2 linked regions of the Homo sapiens genome follow. The protein of the gene in region 2 purifies or fractionates together with the protein of the main gene of each other region. This does not show direct contact. Each region holds a gene or a part of one and is shown on either strand. Other genes may lie near its edges.

Evidence for each region.
Region 1: the proteins of KIF2A (region 2) and RHPN1 purify together in Homo sapiens (affinity purification with mass spectrometry; 2 studies listed by BioGRID and IntAct, with this or other methods). This does not show direct contact.

The regions. Positions count from the first base shown.
Region 1 is NC_000008.11:143,371,602-143,375,515, forward strand, and holds part of RHPN1 (rhophilin-1), read left to right. Parts: intron 1-2,130; exon of another isoform or gene 2,131-2,533; coding exon of another isoform or gene 2,534-2,692; exon of another isoform or gene 2,693-2,696; intron 2,697-3,914. UniProt on the Homo sapiens protein: Has no enzymatic activity. May serve as a target for Rho, and interact with some cytoskeletal component upon Rho binding or relay a Rho signal to other molecules.
Region 2 is NC_000005.10:62,351,205-62,355,118, reverse strand, and holds part of KIF2A (kinesin-like protein KIF2A), read right to left. Parts: intron 2,532-3,914; coding exon 2,409-2,531; intron 1,845-2,408; coding exon 1,744-1,844; intron 1-1,743. UniProt on the Homo sapiens protein: Plus end-directed microtubule-dependent motor required for normal brain development. May regulate microtubule dynamics during axonal growth. Required for normal progression through mitosis. Required for normal congress of chromosomes at the metaphase plate.

The sequences.
Region 1 (3,914 bases), on a different chromosome or scaffold from region 2:
TTTCCTCCTGGGCAGAGGAGCCCCAGTGTCAGGGTTGGGGGGCTGTTTCTCTGTTCTTCGTCCCTCTCCATCGAGGCATGGCCAGGCCCTTCATGTGTGGCTGCCTCTCGGGACCCCCACAGACCACAGCCTCTCTGTCCTTTCCTAATGCAAGGCGGAAATGGCCACAGTGGGGTGTCAGGGCACCGTGGACGTGGGGGTGGGGAGCTCCAGGTCACCTTTGTCTCCAGAGGGTGGGGAGGTTGTAGCAGGAGTAGGGGCCTGAACGCCTGTGTCTATGCCCCTTCCACTGGGCTCAACCTTCAACCCAGTGTGGAAAGTGGGGCATGGGCCGCCCACCTCCAAGGTCTACCCAGCCTCAAAGGTCCGGCTCGGGTCTGCTCCTCCGCCTGTAGGCCGGGAAGTCACTTGGCCTGCAGGGAGCACTGCGGGTAGGGAGGCCGAGGAATGGACCAGGCCCACAGCAGGTGCCTGTGGGGCTCCAAGGGGCCAGGCTCCCCGCAGCTCTCCTGGGGCCAGGAGGGGAGCAGGGACCTGGCTGGGTGTCTGATGCCCGTCGCACAGCCAGAGCCCTTAAAGCTGCTGGAGCCTTGCAGCGGGGCCTTTGCGGGGAGGGGGTGTAGCTGCGGTGGGTGGCACGGGGGTCTCCTAGGTACTGGGCAGAGGCCCTCGAGGTGGTAGCGCCGGTGGGAAAGGTAGGGATGGGAGGCGGGGGTGGGCGGGCCTCAGGTTCAGGGAGCTTCTCAGATCTGAGGCGCCCATGCCCCTCTCCCACCTGTGGGCCTCTCCAGCCCGAGTCCCTGAAGCAGCTCTGGAGGGAATTTCTTTTCTGGAGGAGGCGGGAGTGAGAAACGGGAGCAGGGTGAGGGTTCCCAAGTGCACATCGGCCCGTCCGCTGCTGGGTGGTGTCCACGGGGGCAGGGCTGGGCTGGGGGAGGCCAGGGTCCTGGGCCGGCACACCCTCCTTCCGGCTGCCTGTGTCCCTCCCTCCAGCTGCCTGTGTCCATCCCTCCGGCCGCCTGTGTCCCTCCCTCCGGCCCCTAAGCGCCAACTCATCTTCAGTTCAGGGACCTCCGTCAGGCTCCCTCACCCCAGCACTCAGCAGGAGGCTGCCGGCCTGGGTGTCCAGGGGATGGTGCGGGTGTCCAGCAGACAGTACAGGGGTTTGGGGGATGGTACAGGTGTCTGGGGGATGGCGTGGGTGTCCAGCAGATGGCGCAGGGGTTTGGGGGATGGCACAGGTGTCTGGGGGACAATGCGGGGGTTTGGGGGATGGCGTGGGTTCCAGGGGATGGTGCAGGGGCTTGGGGGATGGTGTGGGTTCCAGGGGACGGTGTGGGGGTTTGGGGATGGCGCGGGTTCCAGGGGACGGTGTGGGGGTTTGGGGATGGCGCGGGTTCCAGGGGATGGTGTGGGGGTTTGGGGATGGCGTGGGTTCCAGGGGACGGTGCGGGGGTTTGGGGATGGCGTGGGTTCCAGGGGACGGTGCGGGGGCTTGGGGGATGGTGTGGGTTCCAGGGGACGGTGTGGGGGTTTGGGGATGGCGTGGGTTCCAGGGGATGGTGCAGGGGCTTGGGGGATGGCGTGGGTTCCAGGGGATGGTGCGGGGGCTTGGGGGATGGTGTGGGTTCCAGGGGACGGTGTGGGGGTTTGGGGATGGCGCGGGTTCCAGGGGATGGTGTGGGGGTTTGGGGATGGCGTGGGTTCCAGGGGACGGTGTGGGGGTTTGGGGATGGCGCGGGTTCCAGGGGACGGGGCGGGGGCTTGGGGGATGGTGTGGGTTCCAGGGGACGGTGTGGGGGTTTGGGGATGGCGTGGGTTCCAGGGGACGGTGTGGGGGTTTGGGGATGGCGCGGGTTCCAGGGGACGGTGTGGGGGTTTGGGGATGGCGCGGGTTCCAGGGGACGGGGCGGGGGCTTGGGGGATGGTGTGGGTTCCAGGGGACGGGGCGGGGATTTGGGGGATGGCGTGGGTTCCAGGGGACGGTGTGGGGGTTTGGGGATGGCGCGGGTTCCAGGGGACGGGGCGGGGATTTGGGGGATGGTGTGGGTTCCAGGGGACGGTGTGGGGGTTTGGGGATGGCGCGGGTTCCAGGGGACGGGGCGGGGATTTGGGGGATGGCGTGGGTTCCAGGGGACGGTGCCTCATCCTCCAGTCTCTGTCTCTGCCTTCCCATGGCCACCTCCATGTGACTGTGTTCAAATTCCCCACCTCGTATAAGGACCCTTGTCACTGCGATTAAGGACCCCCTACTCCAGGGTGGCCTCATCTTAACTCATTATATCTGCAAAGACCCTATTTCTAGAAAAATTGCAGTCACAGGTACTGGGAGTCAGGACTTGAACCTGTCTTTTGTGGGGACACAATTCACCCATAATAGATGGTCACCCGCTCAGCTGGCTGCTGTGATTTTGGGGGGCTGGACGAGCAGGCCTTCTGTCTAGGAAATCAAACCTTTCTTGTATAATGGGAATAAACTAATTAAAATGCACACAAAGATCTCGTTCACATTAGCAAAAAGAACTCTCTCCAGATATCTAGGAGAAAACCCAGGAAAACACGTGTGAGCTCTTTACGGGGAAGACGGGAAGGCCTGAGAGACGTGTGTGCGTGGAGAGGGTGTCGGGTCCACAGAGGGGAAGACCCAGTGCGTGTGCACGTTGGCCCCATGAATCCGCAGCTTCATGCAGTGGTAGGTCAGTTTCATGGTGGCAAGATTCACCTTCAGACGCCACAAGGTCCTGGGGAAGAAGAGGTCCTGTCTCCCGACAAGGGCGGGAAGCAGTCCCAGGAGCCACCAGAGGCCTTGTCTTGCTGCTGACTGGCAGAAATGGCCAGGTTGGCCACGCCTGACTCAGACCAGGCTCGCCCCAGGGCTGGGTGGGAGTCAGTGTCCCTGAGCAGTGAGCCCTGAGCAGCACTGTGGGTCTCAAAGCATGGAAGGAGTGGGTGCTGGAGAGGCAAGCCAGCCAGCCCACGCCTGGGAGCCCACCCAGGGGACAGCCACAGGTAGCTGCAAATAATCTTGTCCGGGTGGAGACCCAGGCATTCCCACATGGCCACGGGGAAGAGTGGGGGTTGGGAGGCCATGGTGAGAGGGAGGGACACGTGAGGATCATGTGGGCAGGACCCCAACACCACAAGGGTGGGGTGGGCTGAGGCATGAAACTGGATCTCCCTAGAGTGAAATGTAAGCTCCAGCACGCTGGCACCACTGACGACACAGGAGCCATCAAAGTCCAGAAGGGGCCCCGCTGGGCACGCCCCACTCTTTCGCCATGGCTGGTGCTGGGCAGGGCCGCGGGGCTGCAGTCTGGGTGCAAGGCTCAGAGTCATTTCTCTGTGGATAGGGAGGGCACGGGTGTGCGTTCGCTTCGAGAACCATTCCCAAAGTCAGACCGCAGCCTCTGCACCAACCATCGGGGGCCAGTGGCCGCCCCCAGAGCCTCAGGGACCCTGTCCTTTGAGCCCACGCCTAAACCCACATGGGAATGATTTGGAGGCGTGGGTGAGTTGGATGGGAAAAAAATTGGGAGGGGCAAGGGGGGGATCCAGAATGAAATCCAGAAGCGCAGAAGGAAGGCTGTGAGGAGCAGTGGGCCGCCTCCTGCAGGGCTCCCGGAGCCCCTACTTGTCCAGGCTGCCTGGTGAGACCCTGGCTTCTGGTGTCCTTGGCAGGTGCCAGCCTCCCCCGCTGACCCCCATCACGAGTCAGCAGCTTACCCCACCGACCACGTCCTTCTGCATTGACTGCCTCCTGTCCTGCTCTGGCCAGGCCTGTGTTCACACTAGTTCTGTCCAGCCCCTCCCTGTGAGGCCAGCTCCAGCCCCAGCGCATGGTGACCATCCCGTTACCCATGGGCAGGATGCACTCCTCTCAGTGGCTGGCGAGGCGCAGCCTGGTGCGGGCGCCA
Region 2 (3,914 bases):
AATGTATTTGTTACATTTATATTTGGTTTGAAAATTAAAATTAAATTGTGCCATTTGTCATAACCAAGCCTAAACTTAAACTGACGATATTATATAGTTTCACAGTTGTGGTTTCATAATAAGCTCTGAACCACTTTGTGTTTGTAAAATTGTGTTTTACAAACACAATTCTCTTAGTCGGTATGCATTCTGTTAACTCCAAATTAAGGACTCTTCATTGAAGTTACCCTTCACCTATTTCAAAAATCCATCTGTTATACATATACCTTAATTATCCTATAAAATGCAGCAACAGAGAAATAATGCTCATGTTACCACTGGCAAATAACTCTAGAAAAGCTGAAATTCTAGGAAAATTCATTTAATCAGATTCATCTTCTAATTTAATCCAGTGTTTCAGCAAAGTATAAATACAGATTCATTTGTCTTCATTTTCTATTTTTGCTGACCTTCTAAAAAATACTAAGTAATGACAAAACTGCCCCAAATCAACAGAACATAGAACTTAAAGGAATCAGAAGCCAAGATCATTTTAAAAAAACTTTAAAATTCAAATTTTTGAATGCCAACTACAATTTATTTGGCTTCAAAACAGAAATTCAGATTAAGATACAAATAGCAATAGTCAACAGTCTTTCCTAGCCTTGAACAATAAATTATTAATCATTCTAAGAAGTCACATTTTTTTATACATCATATTCAGATTTGTTTTGAATGCAACTAAATTACAAACTGTTACTGAAACTTACTTTCAATTAACCTTCTTCTAGGAAATAATACCACCTATGTCAACTGAGAAGCAGACTGTGAAGTGAGAATTAAGAGATCACAGAGAGATGTGTAAGTATTATGAAGTACCCACAGGAAACACCAGGTGGCATCTATGCTAAGTATTAGTAGATAATATGTTTTATTATTCATTTCAAAACCCAACTGGTCATTCTCAGGTCACTTTCAGATAAAAGCTGATTCATTCAGGTTGGATATAATACTAGGTCCACAATTCCACAACACAACATCTGAACTGGTAGTTTAACATGATTAAGGGCATTTGAACATACTATTAAATAAATAATCTTGATGTTTTATTAGAGAAAAGTAGTTCTGAAAATGTAATAGATGCCATACAAGCACAATGGTGCAGTTATGTATAATAACAAAATGTCTAATATGTAAAGACCTGTAGAAGAGTAAAAGACCAGTTTTCTATGCAATTTTCCCACTGCTATTAAACAGTCTTGCTACCATCTGAAGGGACCCTGAGGGGGACACAATAGAGATCCACTCTTCATATGTGGCATAAATGAAAATCCAAGGAATTTCCCCCCTTTCACTAAGACATGTGAACTTACTAACCATAGAAAAACAATAATAAAATTTATAGTTTAATCATGCACTTTAACTGGGTATTTTTCCCAATGTATTTTTAGGTCTTTTTAAAATAAAAATTCTTAAATGTTACACCATACACATTAGAATTCTGTAACACAATGGCTTTTTCTTAATGGAACAAATTTTAGCGTTAACACATACCAATAAAACATGAAAAGAACAATGCAGTAAAAATGTGTTACGGTAACTTATTTGCACAAGAGTTTATATTATTCCTCAATATCAATTTAAGGAATTCTTAAAATTCTTCAAAAAAAATGCCTTAATTATTTTGTTCACATCAATCACCTTCACTGATATAATCTAATCTCTGGTTGGTACATAAACAAAATATATGTTTATGTTACGAACCTGGGCTCTTTTTTCTCTAAGTTCTTGCTGTTGCAATCTCCTTTTCTCTCGTTTTTCTTGCAGTTTTTCTACTTCTTTCACACAATTAGATTTTCTACGTGCTGAAAAGAAAAGATGAGCTGTAGAAGTATAGTTTTCTTTTTTAGAGTACTAATATTAAACTTTTTTTATGTATAACTTCACCACACACACATAAAAGGTACACAGTGACAAAGCATGCCTATAACAACTACGTGAGCTTTACTTAATGAGCTGCTTTACCAAAACTAAAATAGGACAATGTACAGATGAGAGTCCAGAAAAATGACTCAAACATATTGATACATGTCATCTCTTGGTTTAGAAACACAGACTTTTTAATTCAAAGAATCAAGGAGCCCAACACATTCTTCTGTAACATCTGACAAATTATCATCTGCCCAGAATTTTAAACTCAAACTGAAACATTGCTATAATTTCACAAAAAAATTTTTGCTCCAAAATATACTTTAAAAAACCCAATTAACAGACTAATAAGAAGAAGTTAAATTTTCCACAGTGGTAAAATGAAATCTGCAATCAAGCTTGTATTTAGAGTGTTTACTCTTTGAGGACTTAAAAGGATGACCAAGAGAGAATACATGTATGCCTAAAATGACTAAATCCTTGATACATAATTTACATACAAGGGGGTCCAAATTCCTTTTTTGCAGCTTGAACTGGAGATATATCTGAAACACTACCATTCTGTTGTGCAGAGGAAGACTGTTCAGGAAATTGACTGGGCCGTGCACGTGCTGAACCAACCACTGTAAGTAAAAAAAAAAAATTTTAAATTCAGGATAGAAAATTAGTAAAAGCTAACCTTAGTAAAAGGAAGAGATAGCCCCCAAAACCTGATACTTAAAAGTTACATTAGTAAGTTGCCAGGTTTTCTATTTATGTATGTAAAATATAATATAGTTTATAATAATTCTGTTCAATAAACTGACATAAGCTAAAAGAGGCTTTCAAAGTAATACGTGCAGACTTAGCTTTCACCAATGTAATTTTAGCTACAAAATTCAATCTAAATAATTTACATAAAAGCCAAAGCCAAGCTTGTTTTTTAATAATCCTTTAAAATATATATGTGAAAACAAAATATATATGTATATATAAACCGCTCCACGTCTTAAAACTTTAAACTGCAAAGAAATCCTCCTAAAATATGTGTGTAAAATATAATTTTTTTTTTTTTTTTTGAGATGAAGTCTCGCTCTGTTGCCCAGGTTGGAGTGCAGTGGTGCAATCTCGGCTCACTGTGACCTCCGCCTCCCAGGTTCAAGTGATCTCCTGCCTCAGCCTCCCGAGTAGCTGAGACTACAGGCGCACGCCACTACACCTGGCTCATTTTTGTAATTTTAGTAGAGACGAGGTTTCACCATATTGGTCAGGCTGGCCTCAAACTCTTCACCTCAGGTGATCCACCCACCTCGGCCTCCCAGTGTGCTGGGATTAAAGGCGTGAGCCACCACACCCGGCAAAATATAAATTTTACATGCCTTCTCATTTTTAAAAATGTACACTAATCAAATATATACAGAGAGTAAAAACTTAGCTTCAACCCTCCCTATATTCCAAATCCCACTCTTTGCTCCTCAAATATGCAAATCTTCAGCAGAGAATTTCCCAATGTGGATATTATACAAGTGGAAAAAAGAATATAAAATTAAATATAAATATCAAATTTTAAAAGAAATATAAATTTACATAAGACTCAAAAGATAGTGTTTAAACTGAAGGACTGTCCCTCCACTTCCAATCTCTCATTTAATACTTCTGTCCATCCTGTTCTACCATCCACACACAGAGAAATAATACTGCCAGAAAAGACAATTCTGAACTACTTAACAATAGAAAATAAATTCATTATGCTTTTCATGTCCTGGCTGAAAATATATGGGAGACTTCAGTTAACTACACAATTTTTATGTCTGTTCAACTTCTTTAGCTAGTGAAATCAGCCAACTAATTGACTCTTTCCCCATTCCTTTCTTTCTCATAATATTCTTCTCGAATTTGCAAAATTATTTAGTAAATAAGATGAATTAAAAATTGCATTTCATAATTTCATATTCATCTCATCCATTTTATTTTATTATATTATTTATTTATTTATTTATTGAGACAGGGTCTCACTCTATTGCCCA